Linked DNA regions of Homo sapiens. The protein of the gene in region 1 interacts with the protein of each later gene in a pairwise test. Each region holds a gene or a part of one and is shown in the gene's direction. Other genes may lie near its edges.

The links. Proteins that work in one complex are often made in the same cells at the same time.
Region 2: the proteins of CLIC6 (region 1) and DRD2 interact in a two-hybrid assay, tested with the Homo sapiens proteins (one study listed by BioGRID).

What each region holds. Positions count from the first base shown.
Region 1 is NC_000021.9:34,713,973-34,718,735, forward strand, and holds the end of CLIC6 (chloride intracellular channel protein 6), read left to right. Parts: intron 1-2,348; coding exon 2,349-2,510; 3' UTR 2,511-4,251; downstream 4,252-4,763. UniProt on the Homo sapiens protein: In the soluble state, catalyzes glutaredoxin-like thiol disulfide exchange reactions with reduced glutathione as electron donor. Can insert into membranes and form voltage-dependent chloride-selective channels.
Region 2 is NC_000011.10:113,423,383-113,430,415, reverse strand, and holds part of DRD2 (D(2) dopamine receptor), read left to right. Parts: intron 1-5,733; 5' UTR 5,734-5,764; coding exon 5,765-6,049; coding exon of another isoform or gene 6,050-6,053; intron 6,054-7,033. UniProt on the Homo sapiens protein: Dopamine receptor whose activity is mediated by G proteins which inhibit adenylyl cyclase. Positively regulates postnatal regression of retinal hyaloid vessels via suppression of VEGFR2/KDR activity, downstream of OPN5.

The sequences.
Region 1 (4,763 bases):
CCCATTAAAAATCAGAAAATTGTGGTTTAACATCTACAGAGAATTAAAGAAAATGATGTATGAGGTAAGAATTTTATATCTAGGCAATTACCGTTTTGACCTAGACCTCTGGTCTCTTTTTTAAAAAACATAAAATTGTTCTATGATGAAATAACAAAATCATAATCAAAGTAAGAATCCAGAAACAGAGAAGGTGTGTGAAATAAAAGAACAGGCCCTAAACAGAGAACCCCTTTAAATCTGAAACTAGTCCTAAGACCAAACAGCAGTGGGAATTATACGGACAGAATAGAGTCAGAATATAATAAACTATGTCATTACCACCATTGGAAGGAGGATAATACAGAAGAAATGGAAAGAAGCACAGATACATAAATTCCCTCATTTGTCATCATCAGGAGTTAACAGGCAGCATCTAAAATTAGTAAATCAAGGCCGGGTGCAGTGGCTCACACCTGTAATTCCAGAACTTTGGGTGGCTGAGGCGGGTGGATCACTTGAGGCCAGGAGTTCGAGATCAGCCTGGGCAAAATGGTGAAACCCCGTCTCTACTAAAAAGACAAAAATTAGCTAGGTATGGTGGTGCACACCTGTAATCCCAGCTACTCGGGAGGCTGAGGGAGGAAAATCGCTTGAACCTGGGAGGTGGAGGTTGCAGTGAGCCGAGATCCTCCACTGTACTCCAGCCTGGGTGACAGAGCGAGACTGTCTCAAAAAAACAAAAAAAAAAAAAAAAAACTTGATAAATCAAGAAATAGAGAATTCCTATATATTTAAATTTATGTAGGAAACCACTGGAGAATTAACATGACCATAAACCTTTTAAATGACCAGAAAGAGGGACACACACATGCATACAGAAGAAAGAAAACCAAGTTCAGTGTCACGTTCATAGGCATGGCCTTAAACAATGTACTCAGGAATGTTAAAATAAAAAGATGGGCAAAGAAAAACCAGGTACATACAAACAAAAGTAAAACGGACTTCTTAACATGAGCATCAAGAAGTTGGCATTCAAGGAAGAGGTGTCAAACAATTTAGGAGGCTCTCTGAAAATTATATGGTCCTTCTTTGCTGTCACATTGCATCAATGACTGCTGGCCTCCAAAGTCTGCGCAGTAAGCCCCAAAGATCTTCTCATTAACCCCATGCCTGCATCATGCAGACATCCTGGGAACCAGTGGGACAGGAGGCAGCAAAGCCCAACTGGCCTTTATGGCTCTGGGTCTCCACTTCAGGTTGAATTGTGCCCTCCTCCCAATTCCTGTGTTGAGATCCTAACCCCCAGTAGCTCAGAATGTGACCTTATTTAAAAATAGGATCTTTGCAGATGTAATTAGTTAAAATAAAGTCATCGTGGAGTGAGATGGACCTAATCCAGGATGGCCAGTATCGTTGCAAACTGGGGAAATTTGGAAAGAGAGACACAGGGAGAAGGCTCTGTGAAGATGGAGTTATGCTTGCACAGCCAAGGCACTGCCAGAAGTGGAGAGAGAGCCTTCCCTAATGCCTTCAGAGGATCCATGACCCTGCTGATACCCTGATCTTGGACTTCTGGCCCCCAGAACTAGGAATCAGTAAACTTCTGTTGTTCTAAGCCTCCCAGCATGTGTTACTTTATTATGGCAACCCTAGCAAACTGGTACAGTCCCCAGTGTTCTGCACATCTTTGTGACTAATTCCCCAACTGTACCCCTCTTGCTAGAGGAAGTATCTCACACTGCTGTGTTTCTCTTGGTGCTGTCTCTCGACTGCTTCTTCCTTACACCCACCATCCCCATGAGGGTAGGGATTTGCATCTGCTTTGTTCATGAATCTCTCCTCCGCACAGGCGGGCCCCACGATCAGACGATGCTCTTAGTGGCAGCATGATGGCATTCAGGAGGATTAACATGCACAGATGTTTGGGACTGGAGAAGTGAGGTTCAGCAAGTAGGAAGAAGAGAGGGCACCATTTAAACAGCAGATCCACCATGCGTCTTTATTCACATAGCACCAAGTAACACAGTAGCACAACATATGGAAAGAAAGTAACAGGCAACACAAAGAGAAATCCACCAGAGTCCAGAGCATACTCGTGCCAGCGGATTCCAAGACCCATCTGTGACAAACTGGTGGGCAGAACTATGTGCAGTCACTGTAGTGAGTACAGGAACTTCATAGCCCTCCTCACACCCAAGATGGCCCTATGCAAGTCAAGATGCCGTGGTGGGTAGCCCGGATGACTGTGGGATGACATGGGAAACTGGGAAAGAATGTATTGCATGCCTCAGAAGAATGGACTGTCTGACTTGGGAGCCTACCTTAGCAAGTTTTCCCTTTACTGATCATTTTCTCTTCATTTTCAGATTGTGGCCAAGAAGTACAGAGATTTTGAATTTCCTTCTGAAATGACTGGCATCTGGAGATACTTGAATAATGCTTATGCTAGAGATGAGTTCACAAATACGTGTCCAGCTGATCAAGAGATTGAACACGCATATTCAGATGTTGCAAAAAGAATGAAATGAAGCTGGGCTGTTTTCTGTCTTATTTCTCAGTTGAGTGAGCAAGGATACGAAAACAGTGTGTTTGAAAACAAATTAGGTTTGGGTTCAATTCCTTCAATTTTTAAAAAACTGGTCTCTGAGAGTTTTTTAAATCATTGAGAGCCTGTTTTTCTTCTCTAAAACATTAGTTTAATTTTCTTCAAAATGAAAATACTGCTTTGTAATTACAAAATGAGACACACCTATCTTGATATTTTAAAGCAATATCAGAGGGTGTAAAGAAGGACATTTTAACAATCGCCTTCAATTTTACTCCACTTAATTACCGAAAACTTACTGGAGAACATGTTCCAAATCTTCAGTATCTTGTTCTCTCTCTCTCTCTCTCTCTCTCTCTCTATCACACACACACACACACACACACACACACACACACACAATTTCATTCATATATGGTATTGCATTATTTTATTTTAAAGCACTGGTGAGGGGACCTCTTGGTGATTCCTGGATGATCATACACAGAGGACTTACACCATACAAAAATATTGGGCACCGCAGTGCCAGAGAAGATGCTTGAGGTTAGATTTTAAGGAGTGGGGAATTGTGAAGCCCACAGATGCGCACGCAATGACCAGCAGGAACCGGAAGCCCTGGGTCACCCCCACTCTGCCTCATTTCTGCCTCCAGGATGCCACTGCCTCTGCTTCCAGGAAAGGCAAGGGGGAGGGTGCTTATCCGTGTCTCTGGTTCCAGCTTCCTGTCTTTGCTCCCTCCCCTCTCTTAGAGACTGTGCCTTCAGCAGGACTCTTAATATCTGCTGCAACTTGGAGAACCTCCCTGCCCTGAAATGTGAACCAAGCACACTTTGGTTCCTTCTCCGGGCGGCTCTCTCTGAGACCCAAGGCTGCAGTCCCTCAGTGCTGGTGGTATCGTGTGGGGATAGCAATACTTCTCTGCCCTTCATTGTCTCATCTAGACATCAAGCAGGGAAAATCCAGGGAGATTAAATTCATGGTGACAAGTCCTGGGCAGTTCTGGTAAACGGTCCAGTTAGGGAGGGAGTAGAAACTATTGACTCAAAAGAGTTTCTGGCTGATCTGTGGCTTTGCCTCCACCATCCCTAACCAACCTCTCATCACAGCTTTGTGTGTGGGCTGAGTGCTGGCCTTAACCCTAGGCGTGGAAGAGAAAATGTGAGGTTGTTTAGATACTCATCAGGACCTCACAGGAGCTGAGACTTATCAGCCAGAATGTGTTCTTCGGACAGTCGTACACATCTTACAGAAAACCCTCCTTGTAGAGTTGGTTGTGGTATGTGTTTGATGCTATAAAGCTCATTTTTAATGTGTACACCTGCTCTAGGGACGATTCGTTTGAAAGAGAGTAAGATGCATTAACAGAAACTATCCTGGGATTAGGTGAAAAATGTCTAGCAAAAGAAACAAAGTCTTTAATAGAGTGGCCTCTTTCGCTCTTCGATTATGACTGCTGCAGTTTTACCCCAGCAGTCAGCTGTCTTTGTCAACCATACGTTTTTGGAGATTGGGTCTAGCACATGTCACCCTTGTCCACGTTGTTTCACATCTGGTTAGGGGGCAGATTTTAAAATGTAGTTTTGTAATGTTACATTTAAGCATGATAAATGATTAGACTACCAGATGTTACTAGTGCTAACTTTGTATTCTTAGACATTAAAATGATTGACATAAACTCTTTGTGCCTTGAAAATGAAACAAATTATAAAAATGTTTAAATGGAACCAATTTCTTTTGGGTTTTATTTTTTATTTTTTATTATTTTTTGCATTCCCCATTCTCCATTTAGGTTTCAAGAAATAAAATGAATGGTATGGGCTTCTTTTAAAATGGTGAGGACAGGCCTGGCATACCGGCATAGTGGCTCATGTCTGTAATCCCAGCACTTTGGGAGGCCGAGACAGGCAGATCACCTGAGGTCAGGAGTTCAAGACCAGCCTGGCCAACCTGGTGAAACCCCATCTCTACTAAAAATACAAAAATTAGCTAGGCATGGTGGTGGGCACCTGTAGTCCTAGCTACTAGGGAGGCTGAGGTGGGAGGATACCTCGAGCCTGGGAGGTGGAGGTTGCAGTGACCTGAGATCACACCACTGCACTCTAGCCTGGGCAACAGAGTGAGACCCTGTCTCAAAATGAAATGAAATGAAATGAAATGAAATGAAATGAAATGAAATGAAATGAAAAACAAAATAAAATAAAATAAAATAAAATAAAATAAAATAAAATAAAATAAA
Region 2 (7,033 bases), on another chromosome or scaffold:
CTTGGAGCTCTACTGGGGTTGGATGGCATTTTTTTCTTTCCTAGTGATATATAAAATAGTGGTGCATCTTCATTCGATTTTGTCTTAGAGTCTATGAAATGTGGTGATTAGTATGACAGTCATCGGCTATAGCAGCTGGGCTGGGAGAGCTGTATCTTCCAGGCCAGCTGCTACCTCATCTCAAGGGTCACTTGAGTTTGTCCTACAGCCAGGGCCCAGGGACAGGCTTTGTCTTTTCCTTCCTTTACTTCCTCCCAAGGAGTTGGTGGCTGCATCTTGAAATCCATCTCCCTTCATCTAGCCACCTATTTTTCAGGATGGGCCATAGGAGGCAGTGGGCCCAGGAGGACCTCAGACCCTAGTGAGCTGCATTTGAACAGCAACAGTCACTTCATCTTGCTGAGCCGTTGGCTTGTGGTCTGATTGCTTGTTTCATTTCATTCTTTTGCTTGGTTTGATTTTTAAAGTTGACATTCTCAAGGGCTTACCTGTGCCTGGCACATGGCCATGAGTCATCTTACTTAATACTCACAATTGTTGTTATCTCTATTTTGTGTATGGGAAAACTGGGCTCAGGAAAGCCAAATAATCTGGCTGAGGCCCCAAAGTTAGTAAATGGTAGAGTTGGGACTTGAACCCAGGTTTTTTAGTCCTCAACTCGAATGTTATACTAGCACCTCTCAGGCTAGAGTACCTTCTCTGTGGCAGTGGATTTGCTGATGTCTGAATTCCTGCTCAGCTTGATGTTTACATGGTGAGAGCCAGCTAGGCTGCCCCTGCTTGTGAGAGGTGAAAGCCCCAAGTAGATAAGGTGCTGAAGACACGATAGAAACCAGGACTGACACCAGGTGTTAAAAGATAGCCCTGTACTGGCCGGGTGCGGTGGCTCACGCCTGTAATCCCAGCACTCTGGGAGGCCGAGGCAGGCAGATAATGAGGTCAGGAGATCGAGACCATCCTGACTAACACGGTGAAACCCCGTCTCTACTAAAAATACAAAAAAATTAGCTGGACATGGTGGCGGGCACCTGTAGTCCTGGCTACTCGGGAGGCTGAGGCAGGAGAATGGCGTGAATCCAGGAGGCGGAGCTTGCAGTGAGCCGAGATAGCCCCACTGCACTCCAGCCCGGGTGACAGAGCAAGACTCCATCTCAATAACAAAAAAACCCCCAAACAAGCAAACAGACAAAAAGATAGCCCTGTACCAAGGTACTTATAGGGGTTACAGGTATTTAGGCATTTGCCATGTTTTCCCTTTTTTTTCCTATGGTGTAAATATACTACGTTTGTATTAGCAACAAAAAGCAACGAGAACAACCAATAATAAATAATAGATTAGAAAATCAAATGTGTGAGGCCTTTCTCAGAACTTGGGTACAGGGACTCTCCCTTACCCTGCAGAAGTAACCAGCACTCCAGAGAATGAATGCTCACCCTCAACCCCACCTGACCTGCAGTGCTCACATTTGCCATCTACATTGTACTCATAATTTTAAATCCTAGACTAGTGCCTGTAATCCCAGCACTTTGGGAGGCCAAGGCAGGAGTATCTCTTGAGGCCAGGAGTGTGAGACCAGCCTGGGCAACATAGTGAGACCCCCATCTCTACAAAACATTTTTAAAAATTAGCCAGGCATGGTGGCACATGCCTGTATTTCCAGCTACTCAGGAGGCTGAGGTGGTAGGATCACTTGAGGCCAGGAGTTGAGGCTGCAGTGAGCTATGATTGTGCCACTGCACTCCAGCCTGGGTGGCAAAGTGGGATTCTGTCTCTATTAAAAAAAAATTAAATCCCAGTTTACATCCTCCCTCCTCCAGGAAGTTCTCCACAAACGCCCCAGCCACACACATGTGCATATGCTCCTGAACATCAACTGTAGTGGACACGGTGGAGTGCCACCCAGATCCCCCTGCAGGACCACAGCCCTCATCCCCATCTACTGGGAGTGTTGGCAACTGACAGTTTTTGGCAATTGCCCACTGCTGAGGAGAGATGCCTCTTTCAAGGCCTCGCTGCTTTCCCTGGGACAGCCAGAAGCTGTGACATCTATGAGAGGGGATTAAAGGCCCTACCCTGTTGCCCTCATTTAGGCAACTGGCAGGGTGCCCTGTGGGGTCACCTGATGCCTTTCTTGTGACTTCTCCCTCTGGCCTGTCCTGCTTCCTCACTTCTTTGCACATCTTGATCCTGAGAGCATTCCCCTGTACATTTCCTGCAGGCTGATTTCCTCTTCAGAGTCTACTTCTAGGGACCTGTATTAGTCTGCTCTGGCTGCTATGACAAAATTCCACAGATTGGGTGGATTGAACAACAGAAATCTGTTTCCTCATAGTTCTGGAGGCTGGGACGTCCCAGATCAAGGTGTCAACAGGGCTGATTTTGCTTAAGGCCTCTCTCCATGGCTAGCAGATGGCCGCCTTCTTGCTGCATTCCCACTTGGTCTCTCCTCTGTGCGCGCATCCCTGATGTCTCTTTTTATGTCCAAAGCTCCTCTTATAAGGACTCCAGTCAGATTGGGTTAGGGCCCACCCTAAGCGTCTCATTTTAACATAATCAACTCTTTAAAGGCCCTGTATCCTAATACAGTCACATTCTGAGGTACTGGGGGTTAGGACTTCAACATATACATTTTGTGGGTTGGGGGAAGAGCATAGTGCAGACTGTAACAGGACCCAACATGCAGCACCTATGGCACCCTTGGGGTGCCTTACTTTTTCATCACTTGTTAATCTGGTAGCCTATGTTAGCAGGTGCCTTTCAAGTGGGAAGGGGTTTTCTTCCCAGTTGCACTAACAGAGCCTTTGATTCAGTTCAGCAAACATCTGTTGAATACGTACTGCCCACAAACCAGAGTCAAGAGTTGGGAAAGAACAAGATAGTATGGTTTTTATTTGTTCATTCCAAGAACAAGAGGAGGAATGAGCAAGACATGTTGTAACTCTTGTGATGTCTACACCCCAGTGAAAAAAAGAGACTCCTAAACAGGTGTCTCCTGCAGCACTGGGGTGTGTTTCAGTGCTGCAGGACCCTGAGGAGGGTGGGTGATGGCTCAGGCAGGAGGATATGGGTGGATTCTAAGACAGGAGGATTCTAGGCAAGACTCACTTTGAAGGATGCATAGGGACTGGAAAAGCAGAGGGAAGGGAAGTGAACAGAAGAGTTTTCCAAATCCCTTTCTTATTAAAGTAGGGATAATAATTAGACAAGATCAAGCATGTTCCAGGTAGTATGGCCATAGACAGGGATAATAATTAAAAGCCTCCGAGGGTTGTTTTGAGGATAAATGAGACAGTATATCCAAAAAACTTAGCAAACTATCAAACCCTTTACAAGTATATGATGCTATCATCAGCAGCAGGGAGTGGGGGGAGAAGAAGAGAGCGATGGTCAGGATGGGGGCAGTAAGTGTGCCTCACACGCCTCAGGCCCCTGACACTGCTTTGCACAGTGCTTTATGCCCAGCAGGTTCAATAAATGCCGATTGAGTAAATGAATGTCAGAAGCAGCCCCAGGCACCTGATCAATACATACATGCAGGCCTCCCGCTGTGGGCTCCAAATGGGAAGAGGGCTCAGTTGGTTTTGCAGAATACAGCATCAATATGACATATGCTTCATTACCTTAGAACAGGAAGATTTGCTGCGTGGTGGCATTCCATGTCACCCCACATGGAATTAGGCACTTTGCTTTTCCCCGAGGCTCCAGAGTGATGGTGGTTGGTAGGACATGATCCATATTCTTCTACTAAAGCTGGAAGAGTGGGTGTGTCAGACAGGGATGAGAGTGTGGAGATTGGGCAGACCCTCTTCCACCATCCTCTCTGACCCATTGCTGGAGGTGTGCCCTGTTCATTGATTGGACATGGCACCACATTCATCCCAAATGGCATCAATTGGTGGTTTTCAATTTGCAGTAGCAAAGTACCTGGAAGTCATGTGCTTTGTATGAAACACCTTGGAATGCTGATAAGTTTAATTCTATTCTGTAAAAGAGGAAGACTTTTGTTAGCTGAAAAGCCAACTATATTATCCATGCATTATGCTTCAGTCACAACCAAAACTCCGGCTGTCAAGTTCATCAACTCCTGATGCCTCCCAAGTCTGCTCCTGAGCCCCTCTGGTCCCTTTTCTCTGTGAATATGCGACACCAGCCTCCCAGAGCCCCACGCAGAAATCCTAGCATTACCCTCAACTCCTTATCTCCCTGCTTGTCCCATACCCACTTTTGCCCCACACCTATCCAAGGACCAAGGACCATGAAATTGACTTGCAGTTTAGCTCCTAATTCTGAACAGGTCTCTCCATCCTCGTTTCCACTATCTTCGTTCAGATGACCACAATTTCTAACCTAAATTACAGCCAAAACATCACTCTCCTCTGAGCTCTCTTCTACACCATACACTTTCTAGAACACCAGTCCAATAGGGTCATGTCTCTGGGCCCAACCTCTCAGGGACTCTCCAGCTGACAAGACACAATCTGGCCTGTAAATGTCCCTGCAGTTTAATTATCCTCAACGTTACTGCCATACCCTACATTTTTGGCCAAACAGAATTGTTTGCTGTTTGATGATTTGATACCATGTCATATTGTCTGTCTGGAACATCCCCCCACCCCTCTCATTTAGCAGGCTAAGTCCTCCTTCTACTTCATCCCAGATGATACCCACTTCAGGAAGTCTTTCCCTTCTGTGGGATGAGATGCCCATTCTGCAGGGCTTTCACTCCCTGCATCCTGCCAAACCTCATCATCTCTTACCTGGATTCCTGCTACAGCCTCCCAGTTGGTGTCCCGCTTCCACTCTGGGCCCCTCCTCTCCGTTCTCCACAGTGCTGTCAGAATCACCTATTCGAAAGGCGAATCTGATCATGTGGTTCCTGCTGCCCTTAGGATCATGTATAAACTCCTAGCATGACTTTTAAGGCCCTCTATGATCTTGCCTATTGCAACCTCCCCAGACTCAACCCTTGCCAGGTCCCTCTGCATCAGCTATCCAGAATCTCTTTGAGGCCCTCCACCTGCTGTCTACCTCTCTACCTCTGTGCTTTGCATATACTGCTTCCAATGTCTAGACCTTCTGCTGACTCCTAGTTCTTTACCTGGCTAATTCCTACACATCCTTCAGTTGTTTGTCTGTTGAACATCACTTCCTCTAGAAAGCCTTCCCTGAATACCTGAACTAGGTTATGTATCTCTCTCCCTGTTCCATTTCCTACTCCCTATCACCCTTAGATGTAATTGCTTGATTAATTGGCTGTTGTTTCTCCTAGAATGTGAGCTACAGAACCATGTATATTTTGTTCCTGCCTATATTTCTAGAACTATATAGAACAATGCTTAATAAATATTTATAGAATCAAGAATGAATGAATACCCATTTCTGTTTCGATGACTAGAAGGTAGCAAGCCTGGTTAACTGAAGTGTGTGGTGCATGGGTCGTGCTTAAGAAGTGTTTGTTGAATGAATAAATAAATGATGGATCAGCTCTGTTCAAGCTCATCTTATTATGCATTTTTAAAAAATTGTGTTTGCTCATTTGTCCTACCAGCTGTAAAAACTTGCTAGCAAAAGAGTGGCAGAAGGCCCAACATTTTTAGAAAATTCTTAGCCGTAAACCTTAAAATCCCGAGTTGGAAAATTCTCATTATTAAATGCCAGGAGTTGGTCTTCTTCCTGGAGACCTCTGCAAGAGGCCCTCTCACTGACACCTTGTGTCCATTTTTCCTGGCCAGAGCCTGGCCACCCAGTGGCTCCACCGCCCTGATGGATCCACTGAATCTGTCCTGGTATGATGATGATCTGGAGAGGCAGAACTGGAGCCGGCCCTTCAACGGGTCAGACGGGAAGGCGGACAGACCCCACTACAACTACTATGCCACACTGCTCACCCTGCTCATCGCTGTCATCGTCTTCGGCAACGTGCTGGTGTGCATGGCTGTGTCCCGCGAGAAGGCGCTGCAGACCACCACCAACTACCTGATCGTCAGCCTCGCAGTGGCCGACCTCCTCGTCGCCACACTGGTCATGCCCTGGGTTGTCTACCTGGAGGTAGGTGGGCCCCCTGCTTGCTCCAGCACTTTCTCCAGCAGGGCCCTGCACTGGACACTGGGGACTCTAGCTCCCCACTGGCTTTTACCAATGAGTTTCCTGGTGCTTCCCCAGGTGGTTTTTCCTTCACTCTGGGCTTACTTTTTCTCCTTACGAAATGGGTAGATTGTTTCCTTAATAATCCCAACTACCATTTGTAAAGTGCTTACTAAGTGCTGGGCCTCACGTAGGGACTTTAAATATAGCATTTTCCTATATAACCCTCACAGCAGCTTAGAGGCTGGCATTATTGCCACCATTTTGCAGTTGATAAACCAGGTGGTCAGAGATGTTAAGTAACTGCTGCAGCATCACACGGCTGGCAAGTCCAAGCTGGAATTCTGGCCTCAGAGTTAGTTCCTTAGGTCATATTGGAAATAGGAGTAACCGGCAAGGATCCCCAAGGAGGGGCATGTTTATGCTCCCAGGCCCCTGAAACCTTCACTCCCATCTCCCCACTTCAGAAATGGGTCTGCTGCTTTATGCTCCCCATATCCCCTCTCCTTCCCACAGCTTATCCTGGGGCCCTGTCCAGGACCTGCAGGTAGAGGCTGCCATGGACTGTGCTGTAGCCCTTTTGTTAGGAAGAATTGTGTAGTCACTCATTTCTTGGCCCAGCTCTGCACCTCAAAATGGGGAGTAGGCAGCACAGTCTAGACACTGTGCCTGGTGCATTGCTGACACAGACCCAGTGAATACTCTTGGTAACCCTGGGAGTCCATGCTACTCTTCTCACTTTACAAAATAGGAAACAGGCCGAGCACGGTGGCTCACGCCTGTAATCCTAGCACTTTGGGAGGCCGAGGCAGGCAGATCACGAGGCCAGGAGTTCAAGACCAGCCTGGCCAACATGGTGAAACCCCATCTCTACTAAAAATGCAACAATTAGCCAGGTGTGGTGGCATATGCCTGTAATCCCAGATACTTGGGAGGCTGAGGCAGGAG